Regions from separate parts of the Homo sapiens genome. Here region 1 is linked to region 2. The links come from fine-mapping of genetic effects on gene expression. A gene starts in region 2. The other region holds a variant in brackets. All regions are shown on one strand. Distances are between the middles of the regions.

Region 1 (9,524 bases), 130 kb before region 2:
GGGGGTAGGGTGACGGGATTCCTTTGAACTTTGTGGGTGGTTGATGCCTGTCAGTTAGGTTTGGCGGCCTGACTCTTCCTTTAATGTGAGTGAGTGCCCTGCTCGTGGGCTGCCCTGATGCCCTATTTTTTACTGCGTCCAGTCGGTCTTGAACTCTCGGGCCTGGGCTTTGGCTTAATATTCGAGACTTACACATCAACTGGATATTCTAGTCTGAACACTACACTGGGTGTTAGTTCTTTGTAGTAAGTTAGGAGTGCGTGGTGGAGGTTGAAACCGTGAATTTAAAACTCTCGTTTTCCACCCCCTTAATGTGGAATAACAACAGCATTTCTTAAGAGTGTGTGTGGGGAGGGGAAATGAGATCATTCCTATCAAGTGCCTGAAGCATAGTGGCCGGCACTGGAGAAAGTTCTCAGTGAATGTTAGCTGCGCCTTCTATGTTCTTTTTTCCTAGGGTCATTTGTTGAGATTCATTGTTTACAGAGTGCTGGGTATTAGGCAGACCTCTTTTGGGAGTTAGGGACCTTTTTTAAGACGCCAGTCCTACACAGCATGAATCAGAAGGTCATCTTCCTGGAGAGCATTCCAGGGTCCCTGGTTAAGCACCCTAGCCTGGCACTGCCACTAGAGCCTGAGTCTAGAATTTGTCTCCTGAGTTAAAGGACATTTCTGGCCATGGAAACGAAGAGCTCCTCACAAAACTTCAAAGTGGCAGTTTGAGAACAAGGAGAATTTTTAGAGGATCCTTAAACTGGTCATATTTGTAACTGGCGTCTGCACTGTATAGACAAAGTACTGAGTGGCAGATTTCAGGTGGCTTTCAGAGGTCTGATTTGTGTTCAGTTACACTTTTGGGTCTCACATTTCTACATCCTGCTTCTCTCTAATTCCAGTTTCTACTTCATTTTTCAAAAGCCCTACACAGTTTTCCAGTAACTTTTCCCTGATGCTGCCCTCCCACAGAGAGGGTTCTTTCCTGTGGATAGGGAGCGGAGTTTGCATGGAGATGGCCTCTGTCGTTAGTATGTATCTCTTCCAATAGTTCAGAGTACTAGAAGCTATGATTGCCACACCAAACCGGACCAGTTACTTACTTCTAATTTGTGTTCCTGTTTCTAACTCTAGAACACGATGATGAACGCGTTAATTTCCCTCAAAGAAAGAAGAAAGGCCGGGGTCCCTTCCGGTGGAAATATGGTGAAGGAAACCGTAGGTCTGGAAGAGGCGGTTCTGGTATTCGGTCTTCCCGCCTTGAGGAAGATGATGGAGATGTGGCAATGAGTGATGCCCAGGATGGTCCCCGAGTACGATAGTGAGTGACCAGTTGGTCTGGTTTGAATTTAGTGGCTCATGAGATTATATGGCCCTTTTACTGTCCATGTCATTTCCTTTCCCACCTGTTAGAGTGAGAAATGCCAGGACTAGCTTAGTGATTAAACAGTCTTAGTTGTAGTCCCACTAACAGTGCAGGAAGGCCTTTGAGAAGACTTTCCTAGCATTTGTGGTCATTTTATTCTCTGCTTACCCACAGCAACCCCTATACCACCCGACCTAACCGTCGGGGTGATACTTGGCATGATCGAGATCGCATTCATGTTACTGTGCGGAGAGACAGAGCTCCTCCAGAGAGAGGAGGGGCTGGCACCAGCCAGGATGGGACCTCAAAGAACTGGTTCAAGATTACAGTGAGTACTTTGAGAAAGTAGATGGTACAGTAGAGATAGGAGGCCACGCTGAGAGTGGAGATGTTTAATTTTATTCCACAAAAATTATTATTATTATTTTTTTTAAATGGAGTCTTGCTCTGTCACCCAGGCTGGAGTACAGTGGCGTGATCTCGGCTCACTGCAGCCTCCGCCTCCCGGGTTCAAGCTATTCTGCCTCAGTCTCCCGAGTAGCTGGGACTACAGACACCCACCACCACGCCCGGCTAATTTTTGTATTTTTAGTAGAGACGGGGTTTCACTGTATTGGCCAGGCTGGTCTCGAACTCCTGACGTCATGATCTGCCCGCCTTGGCCCCCCAAAGTGCTGGGATTATAGGCATGAGCCACCGCACCCAGCCCAAAAATTCTCCTTGTCATCTGATTACTCCACACTCAAGTATCTATCTTTTCTCCTAGGAATCAGTATCTTCCAACACCTTAGAGCAGGTTCAGAGAAGGGGTGGAAGAGAAATATGAAAATTTTGGTTGGGGGAGGGAGTAATTCCTCTGGATGTCTTCATTTGGCTCAGGCTGAGTGTGGGGCTTGGAGTCCCTGGAGTGCCCTGGAGTTCTCTGAGGGGCAGGCAAGGTGTAAATAATATCTTGGAACTTTTAGAATAAATAAAATTGATTTTTTTTTGAGAGATTATAAGTGTAAATGGGCTGGGTACAGTGGCTCATGCCTGTAATCCCAGCACTTTGAGAGGCCGAGGTGGAGGATCACTTGAGGCTGGGAGTTCAAGACCAGTCTGGGAAATACAGCAAGACCCCTTCTCTACAGAAAATTTTAAAATTAGCCGGGCATGGTAGTACATGCCTGTAGTCCTAGCTACTCCAGAAAGCTGAGACAGGAGGATCGCTTGAGCCTAGGAAATGAAGGCTGCAGTGAGCTATGATCGCACCACTGCACTCCAGCCTGAGTGACAGAGTGAGGCCCTGTTACTAAGAAAAAATAGTAAGTGTAAGTAGACAGAAAGGAGTTAAAGAATCTATGTGTATCTCAAGTAGAAAACCTAGTACTGGTCCTTTCTTTAGATAGTCTTTAAAAGTTTGGTAGAAGGTATAAAAGGCATTGTATTGGGTCTGCTATTCAGCCTTACTTATCATTCCCTTCTTTTCTCTTTCTCTCATTTCTAGATTCCTTATGGCAGAAAGTATGACAAGGCATGGCTCCTGAGCATGATTCAGAGCAAGTGCAGTGTGCCCTTCACCCCTATTGAGGTAAGACAAGGCCTGAGTGGCTGGCTGGCCAGGCACCAGGGATGGTGAAGGGGCAAGCTGGACTCCCAGCGTAATGCCCCTCCCCAAGGGCTCTGGACTCCCAGTGTAATGCTCCTGTTTCCTCTTGTAGTTTCACTATGAGAATACACGGGCCCAGTTCTTCGTTGAAGACGCCAGTACTGCCTCTGCATTGAAGGCTGTCAACTATAAGATTTTGGATCGGGAGAACCGAAGGGTGTGTTTAAAGGGCCTGGCTTGGCTGGAGGTGGAGGTTGGTGCTCAGAGCAGGGACTGGGTCTTGTTCTTGCGGCTTAGGCTTCCCTAGAGTTTTCTGTGCCCTCTGTGTCTTCCCTCCAGATATCTATCATCATCAACTCTTCTGCTCCACCCCACACTATACTGAATGAACTGAAGCCAGAACAAGTAGAACAGCTAAAGGTGAGGCAGGCTCAAATTAGATGTTTCCAACCCAGTCTTACTACTTCTCACACCCCCACCCCCCACACACAAACCCAGTGACCACTAAACCCTTCTTTTTCCTCTAGCTGATCATGAGCAAACGATACGATGGCTCCCAACAAGCCCTTGACCTCAAAGGCCTCCGTTCAGACCCAGGTATGGTTGACAGCAGTAGTTCTCAGATAGGTGGTGATAAGGTGGGATCTGTCAGGGAGGGAAAGTTTGAGGATGTTTTACTGCTAATGCTGGCATGGGCAAACCCTCTCAGTCTTCCCTTTCCTTCCCTTCTGCTTCCTGAAGATTTGGTGGCCCAGAACATTGACGTTGTCCTGAATCGCAGAAGCTGTATGGCAGCTACCCTGAGGATCATTGAAGAGAACATCCCTGAGGTAAGGCCTTTGGCCCAGTATTAGGCATGAGGAAGCAGGGTGTGTTAGATAGGAAGTGGCTGGAGGGCAGATTCGTCTCTGATCCACTTGCTGGTGGTGCCTCCTCTAAACTCTTCTCTCCTCACAGCTATTGTCCTTGAACTTGAGCAACAACAGGCTGTACAGGCTGGATGACATGTCTAGCATTGTTCAGAAGGCACCCAACCTGAAGATCCTAAACCTTTCTGGAAATGAAGTGAGAATTGATAGCTCGGCTATATTTTTGAAGGGGTGGGTAGAGGGTGTAGAGAGTTTGTCCAGTGATGGCAAGAGGCAAGAGAGAGAACTCAGGCCAGATGTGCTGGTTTGCAACTCTAATCCTAACACTTTGGGAGGCCAAGGCAGGAGGATCACTTAAGGCTAGGAGTTTGCACGCCTCTAGTCCAAGCTGCCCCAGGGGGCTGAGGTGGGAGGATTGCTTGAGCTCAGGAGTTCAAGGCTGCAGTGAGTTATGATTGTGCCGTTGCATTCTAGCCTGAGCAACCTGTCTCAAAAAAATTTTTTTAATTTAAAAAATAAATTAGTCGAGCATGATGTCACATGCCTGTAGTCCTAGCTACCCAGGAGTCTGAGGTGGGAGGATCTCTTGAGTCCAGGAGTTTGAGGCTGCAGTGAACTATGATCATGCCACGGCACTGAACTTGGGTGACAGAGTGAGACCCTGTCCCAAAAAAAAAAAAAAA[AG/G]AAAAAATTTTAAAAGATTAGAAAAGATCTCAGAGCTAAGCGTAGGGACTGGGGGTATGGGGAGCCAGCTGGCTGTCTTCACCAGGGTCTCCTCCCTTTGTTCCTTCCACCCTTTGCAGTTGAAGTCTGAGCGGGAATTGGACAAGATAAAGGGGCTGAAGCTAGAAGAGCTCTGGCTCGATGGAAACTCCCTGTGTGACACCTTCCGAGACCAGTCCACCTACATCAGGTCAGTTGTAGCCTGTGTCTCCCCTCCTGGGGACCTTCACCCCCTGGGAGGCTGAGCTAATGCATCCTGACCAGGGCCCGTCTGCGGAGATGTGCAGCCCTGAGCTGGAACCACCTGTCCTTTGAGAGGATCGCGTGCTCCCCACTTTGGTCTGTCTGTGTCTTCCAGCTTTGTCCTGAGATGTTCTCTCTTCTCTTCTGACTTGACTATCTGTTTGCTGGGTCTGTGGCCTTTCTCTTTCTTCCTGAACACAACCTTTTCTAGAATCTCCCTACCCTGTTGTTCCAGGAAAGGCATCTCCCCTTTCTACTCTAACCAGAGGGTATCTTGTACATACCCTATAGATGGGGTTGCCTTGTGCCAAGAGCCTGGTGTCCATGGGTTGAGGAAGCCCTCCCTACCTGGGACTTCCTACTGAGATGGGCCTTCCCTCCTTTGTACTGTGATGGCCCCTCTTGCCCTTGCGCCAAGAGGGACCCTTTTCTCAGGATCCACTTGCCCAGGGCTGTTGCTGTCCATGCTGAGGTTGAGGCCTCCTAGGGGCTGGTGGCATGCAATCTGTCTCTCTTGCCCAGTGCTATGAGCTGGGCTCTCCCTGAAGAAGAAACCTGGGTTCCCCAAGATGTGACCAGAGCTGGGGCCCCGCCAGCAGGCGAGGGAATCCCAAGGCAGGTGCTGGGCGTGGAGGCCACGGGGGCATAGGCTACCAAGGAGACAGAGAACTGACCCCCTCGGGGGCGCTGCCTCTCCCTCACTCACACACTGCACGTCACCCTGTTTGGCCCCGGTGGATGGCTGGTTAGCCAGAGACGGGTAAGATTCCTCAGGGAAGGAACAACCTAAGACAGGCACAGTCGCAGAGGGGCCATCAGGAGAGAACTTGGGGGCAACAGAGGTGGGGCATGGACCCTCACCCCCACAATCCTACAGGGGCCTGAACCCTCACACCTTCTGAGGGAGGTCTCCTGCCCCCATGGCTGCTTTGCTTCCCACGCCCAGTTCAGATCGGGACCCAGGTAGCAGACAGAGACCTGGCCAACAGCAAGTGCCCACTCACCACAGCAAGGATTTGTTTCTCATTTCTACCTTGGACCACAGGGATGGGGCAGCTGAAAGAAAGGGCTGTGTCAGGGTGTCTTTCTCCCTTTTCTCCCTCATTTTTCTAGATGCTTTTTTGCCTTGTAGTTCTTTCTCTTTTTCTTTGCTTTCTCTTTCCTTTTTCTGTCTGTCTCCTATACCTCCCCATCTCTCCCTTGCCCCTGCCCCATCTTGCCTTTTTCTCTTTTTCCTCCTTTTCCTTTCTTATTCCTTTGCCTCTCCTCTTCCTGAGCCCCACCTGCTCATCTCCCTGCCCCAACATCCTGTGCCATCCCTGTGGTGTGTTTGGGTCTTGGCCAAAGCCAGACCTGGCAGAACTGATGGATACCTGGTGAGGCAGCGGAGCCCCTGGGCTCCCACCCCATTCCCTCCTCCCGGGGCTGCACAGGTGAGTAGGTGGAAGGTAAGGGGGGCAGGGAGGGGAAAGAGGTCCTGGGCTTAAAGCCTGGGCTTGGAGTACTGCTCCTTGACACTCAGGGTCAGGCAGAGAGAAAAGAGACAGCCTTCAAGGCAGTCCATGTCTGGGTGCCCCGGGTCAGGTGGGGAGTGGGGGCCATTTTTCCCTGAGCACAGGCTGGGAGGGAGTGGAGGGATGAGCAGGATGGGATGGGCTGTCCCTCGGGTTTGGTATATTTGCTCCTAGAGCAGCCCAGGAGGCACGGTGGCTCTGAAGCATCACTCACTTCTGTCCCGTTCTTGACAGCGCCATTCGCGAACGATTTCCCAAGTTACTACGCCTGGTAAGTCCATAATTTTTTCATTCTAACAAGCACAGCATCTCTCACTCACAAGGATTCCTGGATAGGTTTCTTTTTCTTTTTCTTTTTCTTTTTTTTTTTTTTATTTGAGACGGAGTTTCACTCGTCGCCCAGGCTGGAGTGCAACAGCATGATTTCAGCTCACCGCAACCTCTGCCTCCCAGGTTCAAGCGATTCTCCTGCCTCAGCCTCCTGAGCCCAAGTAGCTGGGATTACAGGCATGTGCTACCACACCTGGCTAATTTTTGTATTTTTAGTAGAGACAGGGTTTCACCATGTTCGCCAGGCTGGCCTTGAATTCCTGACCTCAGGTGATCCACCTACCTCGGCCTCCCAAAGTGCTGGGATTACAGACGTGAGCCACTCGCACCAGGCCCTTTTTTTTTTTTTTTTTGGATGGAGTCTTGCTCTGTTACCCAGAGTGCAGTGGTGCAATCTTGACTCACTGCACCGTTTGCCTCCTGGGTTCAAGTGATTCTCCTGCCTCAGCCTCCTGAGTAGCTGGGATTACAGGCATGTGCCACAATGCCCGGCTAATTTCTTTGTGTATTTTTAGTAGAGATGGGGGTTTCATCTTGTTGGCCAGGATGGTCTTGAACTCCTGACCTCAACTAATCCATCCACCTTGGCCTCCCAGTGTGCTGGGATTACAGGTGTGAGCCACTGCGCCCAGCCTGGATCCCTGGATACTTTTCATGATGCGTTTACACTTGACTTCTGACCCTTCTCTCTTAGTTCTTCAGTCTACTTATGCACCCAGCCTTTTTCTCTCTGGTTTAAACTGTCAACTTTCTTTTTTGTTTGTTTTGTTTTTTGAGACAGGGTCTGGCTCTGTCATCCAGGCTGGAGTGCAGTGGCACAATCGTAGCTTACTGCAACCTTCGCCTGCCAGGCTCAAGTGATCCTCCCACTTCAGCCTCCCAAGTAGCTAGGACTCCAGGCACGCACCACCATGCCCAGCTAATTTTTGTATTTTTTTTGGTAGAGATGGGTTTTGCCACGTTGTCCAGCCAGGCTGGTCTCAAACTCCTGAGCTCAAGCCATCTGCCTGCCTCGGCCTCCCAAAGTTCTGGGATCACAGGTGTGAGCCACTGGGCCCAGTCTACACTGTCAACTTTTACTTCCTTTCCACAGGATGGCCATGAGCTACCCCCACCAATTGCCTTTGATGTTGAAGCCCCCACGACGTTACCGCCCTGCAAGGTAGGAAGCATGGACAGAGTAAGAACTTGTGTGTGGAGAGAATACTGCTTCCATGTTCCTAATACCTGTTTGATTTCAGGGAAGCTATTTTGGAACAGAAAACTTGAAGAGTCTGGTCTTGCACTTCCTGCAACAGTAAGTATCCCAGGGTCCCCCCTCCCCACCCCGAGGTTGAGGGGGAATGGTGGGCAGACCCAGGCACACATCAATCTTTTTGTTTTGTTTTTTGTTTTGTTTTTTTTTTTTTTTTTGGACAGTGTCTCACTGTGTCACCCAGGCTGGAGTGCAATGGTGTGATCTTGGCTCACTGCAACCTCTGCCTCCCAGGGTTCAAGTGATTCTCCTGCCTCAGCCTCCCCAGTAGCTGGGACTACAGGTGTGTGCCACTGCACCTGGCTAATTTTTGTATTTTTCGTACAGATGGGATTTCACTATGTTGGCCAGGCTGGTCTCCAACTCCTGACCTCATGATCCACCTGCCTCTTCCTCCCAAAGTGTTGGGATTAGAGGCGTGAGCCACCGCACCTAGCCATTTTTTTTGTATTTTTAGTAGAGACAGGGTTTCGCCATGTTGCCCAGGCTGGTCTTGAACTCCTGGGCTCAAGCTATTCACCCATCTCAGCCTCCCAAAGTGCTGGGATTACAGGCATGAGCTTCCATGCCCGGCCACAACTCACTCTTGGGAGCTACTGGGTCCTTGTATGGCTGTAGACCACAGAGCCCATACTTTCTTTTTTGTTTTTCCCATAGGTACTATGCAATTTACGACTCTGGAGACCGACAAGGGCTCCTGGATGCCTACCATGATGGGGCCTGCTGTTCCCTGAGCATTCCTTTCATTCCTCAGAACCCTGCCCGGTTAGTATCACATCCCAGAATCTGCCCGGGACCACTGGGTTTCCCAGCAGATACAGGGCACACCTGCTGGCAGCACTGCTCTGAACACCACGTCCATTCCTTTTATTCCCCCAGAAGCAGCTTAGCCGAGTATTTCAAGGATAGCAGAAATGTGAAGAAGCTTAAAGACCCTAGTAAGTGTGTGATACGAACAAAATATGGGAAAAGGGCATGGGAAGGAATCAGTCAGAACTCAGGAGTGTGTGGCAGCACCACTGAGCTTTCTCCTCTACCCACAGCCTTGCGGTTCCGGCTGCTGAAGCACACGCGTCTCAACGTTGTTGCCTTCCTCAATGAGTTGCCCAAAACCCAGCACGACGTCAATTCCTTCGTGGTAGACATAAGCGCCCAGACAGTAAGCTCCTGCTTGCGCCTGACAGAAGCCTAGAATTGGGGTGGGGGTGGCATTTAATAGGCAAGGGGGGGCACTCAGGCTCTGAGAAGTGTACATTGTACCTGATGCTGCTTCTCTTTCAGAGCACATTGCTGTGTTTTTCTGTCAATGGAGTCTTCAAGGAAGGTAAGAATCTTTAGAGTCCCGAGTTTGTAGCGTGGTCCCACCCCCAGCTGGAATTTTCCTCAGCACTCTTAGCTTCCCAGCTACTTTCTCTCCCATTTTCTTTTTGAGCTCCTTCTCCCATTCTGCCCCCAAGCCGTCTTGGCTTGGCCTACCTCTCCACCTGTCCTGTCTGGATGTGGGAAAAGCCTGGGGATTAGGAGGACTTTGGAGTCAGGCAGTTCTTAGTTTCCATCCTAGTTTTGGTTGTGCGGGGCTGTGGACAAGTAACATTACCTCTAAGACAGATTCTTTATTTGTAAGATGGGGTTAGTAATAGCC
Region 2 (11,183 bases):
ATATGATCTGTTTCACCTGAGGATGGGTGAGTACCTGATTGACTGTTTTACTTTGCCCTTTAGTATGGTGGCAGTGTGGGCTCTCAGCCACCCCCAGTGGCACCAGAGCCAGGTCCTGTTCCCTCTTCTCCCAGCCAGGAGCCTCCCACCAAGCGGGAGTATGACCAGTGTCGCATACAGGTACTGATTCTAATTCTTATCTTCCTCTTGGGACCCCTTTGTTCCGTGTTAAGGTGCCCAGCTCAGAGCTTTTTTCAGTTAACGTGCCCTTTGCCAAATCTCTCCCTTCTTTGTAAATGACTTTTGAAATCCTATCTCTACTCTTGGGAAAGGTATCAAATTTCACCTGCCCCAGTTGTATTTAAACCCATACCTCTCTCTTACTCAGCAGTTACCCTTTTACTTGTTCATGTTTTTATTTGGTTTATTATGTAGCTATCTGGTGATGTGGTATTTATCCAGATTCTTTTGTATAATCTTATCCTTGTCTTTCTTAGGTTGTGAGGGAGCTGGGAGTCTCTCATCCGCACTTAGTAAAGCGGAGCCTAAGTGGCTGTTCATTTGGTGCTTTAAATAGTAGTTGTGCTGGTTCAATCTAAGAAGAAGGGGGCCCAGCTTTAGCTCTTTTCCTTACTTGGGCACCTCATTCAGTTTTGATGCCCACAATACTGAGTATCTCCCTTGCCCTTTAGGTCAGGCTGCCAGATGGGACCTCACTGACCCAGACGTTCCGGGCCCGGGAACAGCTGGCAGCTGTGAGGCTCTATGTGGAGCTCCACCGTGGGGAGGAACTAGGTGGGGGCCAGGACCCTGTGCAATTGCTCAGTGGCTTCCCCAGACGGGCCTTCTCAGAAGCTGACATGGAGCGGCCTCTGCAGGAGCTGGGTATGGCTGCAAGACTAGAAACCAGGACTAGAAACTGGGGGAGTAGGGAGGCATGCCTAGGAAAAGGAGGGATGCAAAGAGAAGGGGCTTTGTGAACATGGTGCAAGGCCAGGAATTTTGGGAGCAAAAACCAAGTATCCTTGTGGTTCAAGCCTGTTTTCTTCCATCTTCAGGACTCGTGCCTTCTGCTGTTCTCATTGTGGCCAAGAAATGTCCCAGCTGAGGGCCTTTGTCCCATTGTCCCTCTGTGACCCCTTCATCTTTGATAAAGCACTGACATCTCCTTCCTAATAAATAGACCCTGAGTTCTGTACATGCCTGACTCCTTCCTGAATGGCTGGGAGGGACAAAACTAAGGCAGAGGAAGAGGCTAAAACGGAACAGTAGACCCTCTTCCTCATCTTTAGTTTCCAACAAAGACACTTGTTTGTAATCTCTGGGTCTGATTAACTGCTGGGGAAGTTGCGGAGGAGAGGTGCTAAAAGGGGTGGAGAGTACATTGGATGGCACCTTTTACTCCTATGGTAAGACAGAAAATAAAAGCCCAGCTGCTGCTTTTTTATTTTTATTTTTGAGACGGAGTCTTGCACTGTTGCCTGGGCTAGAGTGCAGTGGCGCAATCTCAGCTCACTGCAACCTCTGCCTCCCAGGTTCAAGCGATTCTCCTGCCTCAGCCTCCCTAGTAGCTGGGATTACAGGCACCCACCACCACGCCCAGCTAATTTTTTCCATTTTTAGTAGAGACGGGGTTTTGCCATGTTGGCTAGGCTGGTCTCAAACTCCTGACCTTGTGATTCGCCTGCCTTGGCCTCCCAAAGTGCTGGGATTACAGGCATGAGCCACCACGCCCGGCCTGCTGCTTTATTTATTTATTTATTTATTTATTTATTGAGAACATGAGAGTGCCTTTTCATTTTAAAAATGTTTGGAAATATGCACAACTTTGATACAGCTTTGGGGTGCTCCAGACACCCATGGCCACTTCATGTAAACCACTGAGAATTTCTTTTTTTTTTTTTTTTTTGAAATGGAGTCTTGCTCTGTCACCCAAGCTGGAGTGCAGTGGCACAGTATTGGCTCACTGCAACCTCCGCCTCCTGAGTTCACGGGATTCTTCTGCCTCAGCCTCCCAAGTATCTGGGATTACAGGCGCGCACCACCATGCCCAGCTAATTTTTTGTATTTTTAGTAGAGTCAGCGTTTCACCATGATGGCCAAGCTGGTTTCAAACTCCTGACCTCAAGTGATCCACCCGCCTCGGCCTCCCAAAGTGCTAGGATTACAGGCGTGAGCCACCACGCCCGGCCACCACTGACAATTTTTAGAGTACTTTGAGAGACTATACAATATCATGATCAAATTTTGTAATTAAACCTAATGAGGACAACAGGCACTTCTCAAATAAGAGATGTGTCCATTACGGGGCTCCCCTACTCTTAAGGTACTCACAAGGAGGCAGATAAACAGTTTCTTTTTTTTTTTCCTTTGAGATGGAGTTTTGCTTTTGTTGCCCAGGCTGGAGTGCAATGGAGCGATCTCAGCTCACTGCAACCTCCACCTCCCGGGTTCAAGCGATTCTCCTGCCTTAGCCTCCTGAGTAGGTGGGGTTACAGGCATGCACCACCACGCCCAGCTAATTTTTTTTTTTTTTTTTTTTTAAGAGACAGGGTTTCACCTTGTTGGTCAGGTTGGTCTTGAACTCCTGACCTCAGATGATCCGCCCGCCTCTGCCTCCCAAAGTGCTGGGATTACAGTCTTGAGCCACTGTGCCTGGCCAGATAAACAGTTTCTTTATTCATCCTCCTCCTCTTCATCTTCCTCTTCCACCTTTTTCCAGGCAACTTTAGCAGGACCCTTTGCATCATCAAACCAACCTTTCTACTTATAGTCAGGAACATCCTTCTTATACTTTTCCTTCAGCTTTGCTACCTTAGTGATGTCATTTAAGTTATTTCACATCTCACCCAGAAAACCTAGCTTCTTAATAGAATAGGAATAGTGCCTATTTCTTGGGATTGTCATGAGGGTTACATAATGCTGGTATAAGATGCTTTAGCATAGTGCCTGGTACCTAATAAGTCCCCAGTAAGCATTAGCTACTAAAAGGATAATTTTATTTACTTATTTGAGGTGGAGTCTTGCTCTAGATCCCAGGCTGTAGTACAGTGGTGCAATCTCGGCTCATTATAACCAACGTCTGCCGGGTTCAAGCAATTCTGCCTCAGCCTCTCGAGTAGCTGGGATTGCAGGTGTGTGCCACCACACCCAGCTAATTCTTTGTATTTTTTAGTAGAGATGGGGTTTCACCATGTTGGCCAGGCTGGTCTTGAACTCCTGACCTCAAGATCCACCTGTCTCAGCCTCCCAAAATGCTGGGCTAAAAGGGTTTTGTTTTTTTGTTTTTTTTTTTTGAGACATCTCCTCACTCTGTTACCCAGGCTGGAGTGCAGTGGCACGATCTCGGCTCACCGTAACCTCTGCCTCCTGAGTTCAAGCGATTCTCCTGCCTCAGCCTCCCGAGTAGCTGGGACCACAGGCACGTGCCGCCATGCCCAGCTAATTTTTGTATTTTTAGTAGATACAGGGTCTCACCATGTTGGCGCTTCTCTCTGCTTTTTAAAACCAACCAAGAAGCACTGATGAGCTTATCTATGATAGTCCCTCTGGCTGCTGATCACCCCACCCTGCTGTCCTGTCAAACTGCTCCTGACTCCACTCCTTCCTGGACTAGGAGAAAGGCCACAGTTACTCTGTAAAGATCACATGTAACATGTGTTCCAGCAGCTGAAAAGAGCACCAATACTTATATCTGGGTTTACACCCCAGTGTTAGAAAGCTTTATTTGGGCCAGGCACGGCGGGTCATGCTTGTAATCCCAGCACTTTGGGAGGTTGAGGCGGGCAGATCACCTGAGGTCAGGAGTTCAAGACCAGCCTGGCCAACATGGTGAAACCCTGTATCTACTAAAAATACAAAGATTATCCTGGCATAGTGGCGCACCCCTGTAGTCCCAGCTACTGGAGAGGCTGAGGCAGGAGAATCGCTTGAACCCAGGAGGCGGAGGTTGCATTGAGTTGAGATCGCTCCATTGCACTCCAGCGTGGGCAACAACACAGAAATTCTGTCTCAAAAAAAAAAAAAAAGCTTTATTTGGTGTTCTGACTTTAATAACAGCAGCCTTTTTTTCAATTGCAGTCTTGCTTGGGAACCACAGGATAGACAAAAGAGGAGCAACTTGGTTGACTAGGCTGTGGGGCTTTGACCCCACTTATTTAATCCCCTCAGTGGCAGCTCCAATAAATCCTGACCAGATCCAGAGATTGGGGACCACTTTACATTTCTAAATTAATGTTTTACAATAATCCTCGTAGTTATGACCTTTCATAGAACAGGGCTGAGGTTTGTAACATGCTGGAGTTCAACCAGGATCTGTGACTCAAAGCACACTCCTTTTACTACTAGTAAGTCAGCCTCCTAAGCTTGTTTAACCAGAGGTTAAATAATGGCCACAGAAAGCATTGTGGCATATGTTAAGTGCTAGATGCCCCTCCAATCTCGCTCCAAGGACAGGAGTCCTGAGTGTCCACTATAGGCATCCATTACTTCAAGACTTCCCAGGATAGTTCAGATTTCAAGAATGTCCCACGGTTATCCCTGGAAGTACACTCCAACCTGACACCACATGACCTGTTTTGAAAATGTGGTTGGCCGGGCGCAGTGGCTCACGCCTCTAATCCCAGCACTTTGGGAGGCTGAGACGGGTGAACTGCCTGAGGTCAGGAGTTCGAGATCAGCCTGGCCACATGGTGAAACCCGCCTCTACTAAAACTACTAATATCAGCCGGGCGTGGTTGCGGACGCCTGTAATCCCAGCTACATGGGAGGCTGAGTAAGGAGAACAGCTTGAACCCAGGAGGCAGAGGTTGCAGTGAGCCAAGATTGCGCCACTGCACTCCTGCCTGGGTGACAAGAGCAAGACTCCATCTCAAAAAAAAGAAAAAATGTGGCCGCGGCAGGGCGAGGTGGTTCACGCCTGTAATCCCAGCCCTTTGGGAGGCCGAGGCGGGCGGATCACCTGGGTCTGGAGTTCGAGACCAGTCTAGCCAACATGGTGAACCCTGTCTCAACTAAAAACACAAAAGTTAGCTGGGCTTGGTGGCGCGCACTTGTGATCCCGGCTACTCGGGAAGCTGAGGCAGGAGAATTGCTGGAACCCAGGGGCGGAGGTTGCAGTGAGCCGAGATCGTGCCACTGCACTCCAGCCTGGGTGACATTGACTCCGTCTCAAAAAAAAAAAAAAAAAAAAAATGTGGTCAGATACCTATCGGGATCAGCCTCTTCTGGTGGGGTGGGACAGGCAGCAGCTCCAGGCCGCGCCCCCAGCACCGACCACGCGTCTCTAAGCATTGGTAGGTGTCGACTGCAGGGCTCATTCTGGGTGGAGGAACATGATTTTATTGGTTCTTTCAGTTCACCACATCCGACTCGCGTCTCGGCCCTGGCCCGCCTTGCGGACCTTAAAGCAGTCAGTCCAGGGTTTGGGGGAAACGTGCTCACCCGACGGCAGCTCACAGGACCCCGGAGAGTCCTGGCATGGTATCTCGGTCCGGACTCTCCGCTGGGCCCACGAAGGAGAAAGGCTGCCTCGGATTCCTGCGCCCAAGCCAAGGTCCGGCGCCCACGGAGGCAAGTCCGGTCTCACGGTGACCTCCCGCCGGCGCCGCCTTCGCCGCCAACCATCCAGTTCTTCCTCCAGGCCACGTTCTCCTGCGTGGTCGCTGCCTCCTGCAGAGTGGCCAGCAATAGCTGCTGGGTCCTGGCCGCCTCCTCCCTGCTCCTTGGGTCCTGCAGTGGCATCTCCTGAGGGCAGGAAGGGGAGTTCGCAGGAGCTCCAGTCCGGGGCTCTCCACCCGCCCACCCTTCCTCGGGACTACCAGTTGCTTCTACCTTTAGCATTTCCTGCTTCCGCCGCTCTCCCGGGGTCACGATAACGAGGAGCGCGTAGCCCACGCCAGCCCCTGCGCCCAGCATTGCGACTGAGATCAGCATTTTCCGCAAGGAATCCATGGCCGCCTGCACAGCCAGCGGAGCGCCCACGGGAGCTCCCCGCAGCCGCAAGCTGTTGCCGCGCGGTCTCACTACCCCTTGGCGCAGGCTAGAGCGCCCTATAGCAGAAACCATAGATAAGCGGCCGGCTAGAGAGGACCTGCTCGAGGAAACGTTTGGAATCCGGAGCGCTTGGATCTCAGGTTTAGCTGAGGGGGTTGAGGTGTCCAAGAAGTGCTGGCACCAAGGGCTGAGCGCGGGGACCCTGTGTCCTCAATTCCGGGGTGGGATTGCTAGGGGGAGAGTGCGTGTCTTCATGGTTGCCGTGGGTTTTATGATTGCCCATTTTTCTGTCTTCCGACGTTTCCCGATCAGTAGAGGCCCGAGCTGTGCTCTGTGGTTTCCTGCAGTCACCCGCGCGTTTTCAACACAGCGCATGGAGGGCATCTACACACATACACATCCCTCTCCATCCCCTCAACTCTGGAACAAACACTCAAAGTCAAGTATACTGGTTGGAGAAATGGGTAATAGTTACTTATCTTTAACATTTATTTTACAAACAACCTATTCCTTTTCTCGTCATGGTACACACTTGGTATTGTTTGGGTTTTTTTTTGGTTTTGTTGTTGTTGTTAGTGTGTGGGCGTGGTTTTGTTTGTTTTTGGAGACAAGGTCTCGCTCTGTCGCCCAGGGCTGGAGTGCAGTGGCGCGATCATGGCTCACTGAAGCCTCGACTTCCAGGGCCCAAGCGATCCTCCTGCCTCAACCTCCCGGATAGCTGGGATTACAGGCGTGCACCACCACGCCCGGCTGGTATTGCTTTTTGTTTTGCTTCGTTTTCTTTTTTGCTTTTTGAGACAGAGTCTCACTCTGTTGCCCAGCTGGAGTGCAGTGGCGTGATCTCGGCTCACTGCAAGCTCTGCCTCCCGGGTTCACGCCATTCTCCTGCCTCAGCCTCCCGAGTAGCTGGGACTACAGGCGCCCGCCACCACGGCCGGCTAATTTTTTGTATTTTTAGTAGAGAAAGAGTTTCACTATGTAGGTCAGGCTGGTCTCGAACTCCTGACCTCGTGATCCGCCCAATCCGCCCACCTCGGCCTCCCAAAGTGCTGGGATTACAGGTGTGAGCCACCGCGCCCGGCTGTTTTGCTTTGTTTTCAACCACTAAAAGGCTGGATTCGTGTAACATACTGAATTCTGCTTTACAGAAGAAAACACCTCTTAGCTGTGTGACTGATTATAGGCAAGTTCTTGTGCCCCGGTTTCTGCATCAGAAAATGAAGCTTATAACAACAGTACTTGTCTCACAGTTTTAGGATAATTAAATTAGTTATATGTAAAGCAATTAAAACAGCTCCTGCCAAAGAGTAAACACCATATAAATATTCATTAAATAACATACAAACATACCAGGTTGGGAAAAATCAGTAAGCATAGGAGTCAGGAAATTCCAAGTTGGTTATCACAACTCTTGGCCCACAGGGCTTTAATCCAGGTGCCCTTGTCTCCTACCCTTGTTGCCATCCCAGTGTCTCCAGGGAGTAAGTAGAAATAAAGATCCTATCTCACCTCTTGGGCATTTTCCCCTCCCCTGAAAGCGTATAATCGCTTAGCACAGTCGGTGCTTAAGGGGCCAGGCTCCAAAGAAGATTAAAGGAACAGTTTGTGGGGTGCACTGGGCAGCAGTACTCTCCTCTGAGTTCAATCATCTTGCACTCTAAGAATCACCACCATGGCCCTTGTGCCAGGGAGAAGCAAGGAGGATGGGCTTTGGACTAGAAATAGCCCAGGCTCCTCCCAGCATCCAGAAAGTCCCAGGCTGCCCAACCCTCTCTGGGACAGAGGAAAAATTGGCAAGGTTGAAGGTCACCAGCACATTCAGGTTAGTACTTCCTCAGCCTGTGTCTGGCAGCTGGCTTACCCTCCAGTTTGGCCCAACCTCCCTGCTGTCCCTATTCAGGATTTCTCTCAAAAGTCCCATCTGCCGTCTATTGTGGTGGAATCCAGTGAGGTGAATGAAGAGAGTGGGGATCTCCATTTGCCCCATGAGGAGCTGCTGCTGCTCACTGATGGTGAGGAAGAGGATGCTGAGGCCTTCTTCCAAGACCAAAGTGAAGAGCCAGGTGAGGGAGGTGGCTCATTCAGGGGGCCACTGTGAGCTGAATGTTCTGGGCAGAGCCAAGATGGAAGTCAGTTACGGCCCCTGCATTCAGCAGTGCCAGGCACACAGCAGGTGCTCAATAAATGTGAAGATGTGGGAGAGAAAAGGCAGCTGGCAAAGTTGATGAATTGTAGAGAGCAGTTTTGGTATCAGAATGGGTGCCATCCTTTAATCTGTACTTTCTTTTTCTTCTTTTTTTTTTTTTTGAGACTGAGTCTCGCTCTGTCACCCAGACTGGAGTGCAGTGGCGCGATCTCAGCTCACTGCAAGCTCCGCCTCCTGGGTTCACGCCATTCTCCTGCCTCAGCCTCCCAAGCCGGCCAGTCTTGGGGTAATTTTATCTTTTCCTGCAGCAATGTAAACATTTTGAAAGTACAGATTAAGGCTGGCCGCGGTGGCTCACGCCTGTAATCCCAGCACTTTGGGAGGCTGAGGCGGGCAGATCACAAGGTCAGGAGATCGAGACCATCCTGGCTAACATGGTGAAACCCCGTCTCTACTAAAAATACAAAAAATTAGCCGGGCGTGGTGGCGGGCGCCTGTAGTCCCAGCTACTCGGGAGGCAGGAGAATGGCGTGAACCCGGGATGTGGAGTTTGCAGTAAGCTGAGATCCCACCACTGCACTCCAGCCTGGGCAAGAGCCAGATTCTGCCTCAAAAAAAACAAAAAACAAAAAAAATTACCCCAAGACCAACTACCTAAAAATAGTTTACATATTCGATACCTTCTCTTCTAGACTTTTTTCATCTCTGTGTACTGTTTTTTTGTTTGTTTGTTTTGGTTTTGGTTTTTTTTTTTGAGACAGAGTCTTGCTCTGTCCCCCAGGCTGGAGTGCAGTGGCAATGACCTCTGCTCACTGCAAGCCCTGCCTCCTGGGTTCGTGCCATTCTCCTGCCTCAGCCTCCCGAGTAGCTGGGACTACAGGCACCCGCCACCACGCCCAGCTAATTTTTTTGTATTTTTAGTAGAGACAGGGTTTCACTTTGTTCGCCAGGATCTCCTTACCTTGTGATCCGCCTGCCTGGGCCTCTCAAAGTGCTGGGATTACAGGCGTGAGCCACCGCGCCCGGCCCCGTCTGTGTACTGTTACAGAAGCTACTTTTTTTTTTTTTTTTTTTTTTGAGACAGAGTCACCCTCTGTTGCCCAGGCGGAGTGCAGTGGCAGGATCTCGGCTTACTGCAACCTCTGCCTCCCAGGTCCAAGCAAGTCTCCTGCCTCAGCCTCCTGAGTAGCTGGGGCTACAGGTTCAGGCCACCACGCCCGACTAATTTTTTTTGTATTTTAGTAGAGATGGGGTTTCACCATATTGCCCAGGCTGGTCTCAAACTCCTGAGCTCAGGCAATCTGCCCGCCTCAGCCTCCCAAGAAGCTACATTCTTTTGAGCATTTACTATGTACCAGGTACTATGCTAAACACTTTTACTTCATGATTTTCAGAACAACCCAATGAAGGTACTTCCCCTTTATAAATGAGAAAATTGAGGCTGCGAGGTTAGGCTCTTAGTGATATAATTGCTCTATTTTTTTATAAGCAAAAAATACCACAGAAATTAATTTTTAGCTCAAGTGCAGCAGCTTATCATGGCCCATTGCAGCTTTGACCTCCCAGGGTTCAAGCAGTCCTCCCAGCTCAGCCTCCTGAGTAGTTGGAACTACATGCCTGTGCCACTATCCCGGGCTCATTTGTTTTTGTAGAGTTAGGGGTGTCACTTTATTGCCAGGGCTCAAGCAATCTGCCCACCTTGGCCTCCCAAAGTGCTGTGATTATAGGTATGAGCCAGCATGCCTGGCCTAGTTTTGTAATTTGATAATATATCAGTAATATTTTTGTCCCCTCTCTTCCTCCATCCCAGGCTGGGCTTGGAGCCCACAGGACCCTAGAAGTCCTTTAAGAACATTTAACGCTGGACTCAGCTGGGGGCAGGACCAGGATGAAGAAGATGCTTGTTGGATTCTTGAGGACACAGCATGTCTGGAAGCCACCAACCACTGTCCCTTCTGGGACTCAACAGGCTCCCGTGTTTGTAGAAGTGGCTTTGTGGAATATTCCCATCTCCTGCCTCCTAATAGCTTTGAGGGTAAGTATTGTTCCCTCCCCCTCAAATATCTCATCCAGGTTTATGAAGCTCCTTATACCCATCCTCTTACAATCTCCTTTTACAGGTGACAAAAATGAGGCTTACAGGTTAGGCCACTAGATTATACAAGTCAGTCAGCGCAGGGGTTTTGATTCAGTTCCTGTCTGCTGCTTTTAGGAGCTCCAGTTAGTTGAAACTGGGGAATGACCCAATTGTACCTTCTCTTTTCAGCATTCATTTTGTGCTAAATATTGCGCACATCATTGTATGTAATCTCCGTAACTCCAAGTTATTCTCACTCTGCAGATGAGTAAACTGGGGAACAGAAACATTCAGCAATATGGCACCCAGCTAGTAAATGTGGAAGCCAGGACTCAAATTCTCACTTTGCAGCCAGATAGCTTGCAAAGACAGTTCTTCAGCCCTCTCCTTGCCCACAGAAATACTAGGGTCAGGACTACTAAAATGTCTTTAATGAGAGCCTTGAATCAAGTAAGCAAAGTAGGTGATGCCCCTGAACGGGCCTAGCTCCTGCACAGTCACAGTCCAGCCATAGGACCCTTGTTCCAGGCAGGGCAGTCGCACATCAGGGTCCTCATCTGAGAACTGAATCAGGGTCCCCTGAGGGTTTAGAACCCTCAAGCATTCTGATAGAAGCTGGTAAGCCCTAGGCAGACCTCCCCGGGCAACAGCATCCCATGTGCCTTTGTCCAGCAGTAGTTGGAAAGAGCCTGAAGAAGCCACAGCCCCCAGGTTCTGAGCATCGGCGTGCATGAAGTGGAGGCTTGAGGCAGGGTGTCCAGGGCATAGAGGTGTTTGGCCTGGGCCACCCTCCAGGAGGCTATTCATGTGGGCCACAGCCACAGGAGAAAAGTCCACCCCCAGCACATCCACTGGGTGTGGAGATTTGGTGTAGAGGCCTGTACATAGGCTGGAAGTCCCACAGCCCACATCCAGCACTCGCAGAGGACTGGCAGCCTGTGCCTCCTGCAGCAATGGCAGTAGGAG

The links. PIP is the estimated chance that this variant, and not a neighbour inherited with it, causes the effect.
Region 1: its variant is fine-mapped to the expression of LBHD1 in B cells (Fairfax 2012, PIP 0.95).

Annotation. Positions count from the first base shown.
Region 1 is chr11:62,795,583-62,805,106 of GRCh38, reverse strand. NXF1 (nuclear RNA export factor 1) reads left to right here. Exons shown (of 21, transcript NM_006362.5): 2 at 1,129-1,315; 3 at 1,535-1,688; 4 at 2,847-2,930; 5 at 3,061-3,165; 6 at 3,288-3,368; 7 at 3,476-3,545; 8 at 3,690-3,778; 9 at 3,906-4,013; 10 at 4,621-4,730; 11 at 6,532-6,568; 12 at 7,721-7,789; 13 at 7,869-7,924; 14 at 8,540-8,647; 15 at 8,762-8,820; 2 more. Among named protein-coding and RNA genes, the nearest start is that of NXF1, 5.1 kb to the left of the region's middle. The variant AG/G (reference allele first, on the strand shown) is at 4,501.
Region 2 is chr11:62,666,515-62,677,697 of GRCh38, reverse strand. It overlaps LBHD1 (LBH domain containing 1), which reads left to right and starts at 5,431. Exons shown (of 7, transcript NM_024099.5): 1 at 5,431-6,134; 2 at 7,657-7,816; 3 at 7,895-8,057; 4 at 9,951-10,175. The coding sequence starts at 7,667. CSKMT (citrate synthase lysine methyltransferase) reads right to left here. Exons shown (of 3, transcript NM_001043229.2): 3 at 9,590-11,183. The coding sequence ends at 10,647. It overlaps UQCC3 (ubiquinol-cytochrome c reductase complex assembly factor 3), which reads right to left and starts at 6,025. Exons shown (of 2, transcript NM_001085372.3): 1 at 5,833-6,025; 2 at 4,012-5,745. The coding sequence starts at 5,952. The coding sequence ends at 5,584. UBXN1 (UBX domain protein 1) reads left to right here. Exons shown (of 9, transcript NM_001286077.2): 7 at 64-180; 8 at 693-885; 9 at 1,059-1,198. The coding sequence ends at 1,108. RefSeq lists a silencer at 5,222-5,351 and enhancers at 5,592-5,751, 5,118-5,859, 5,860-6,599, 6,600-7,341, 11,039-11,138 and 1 more.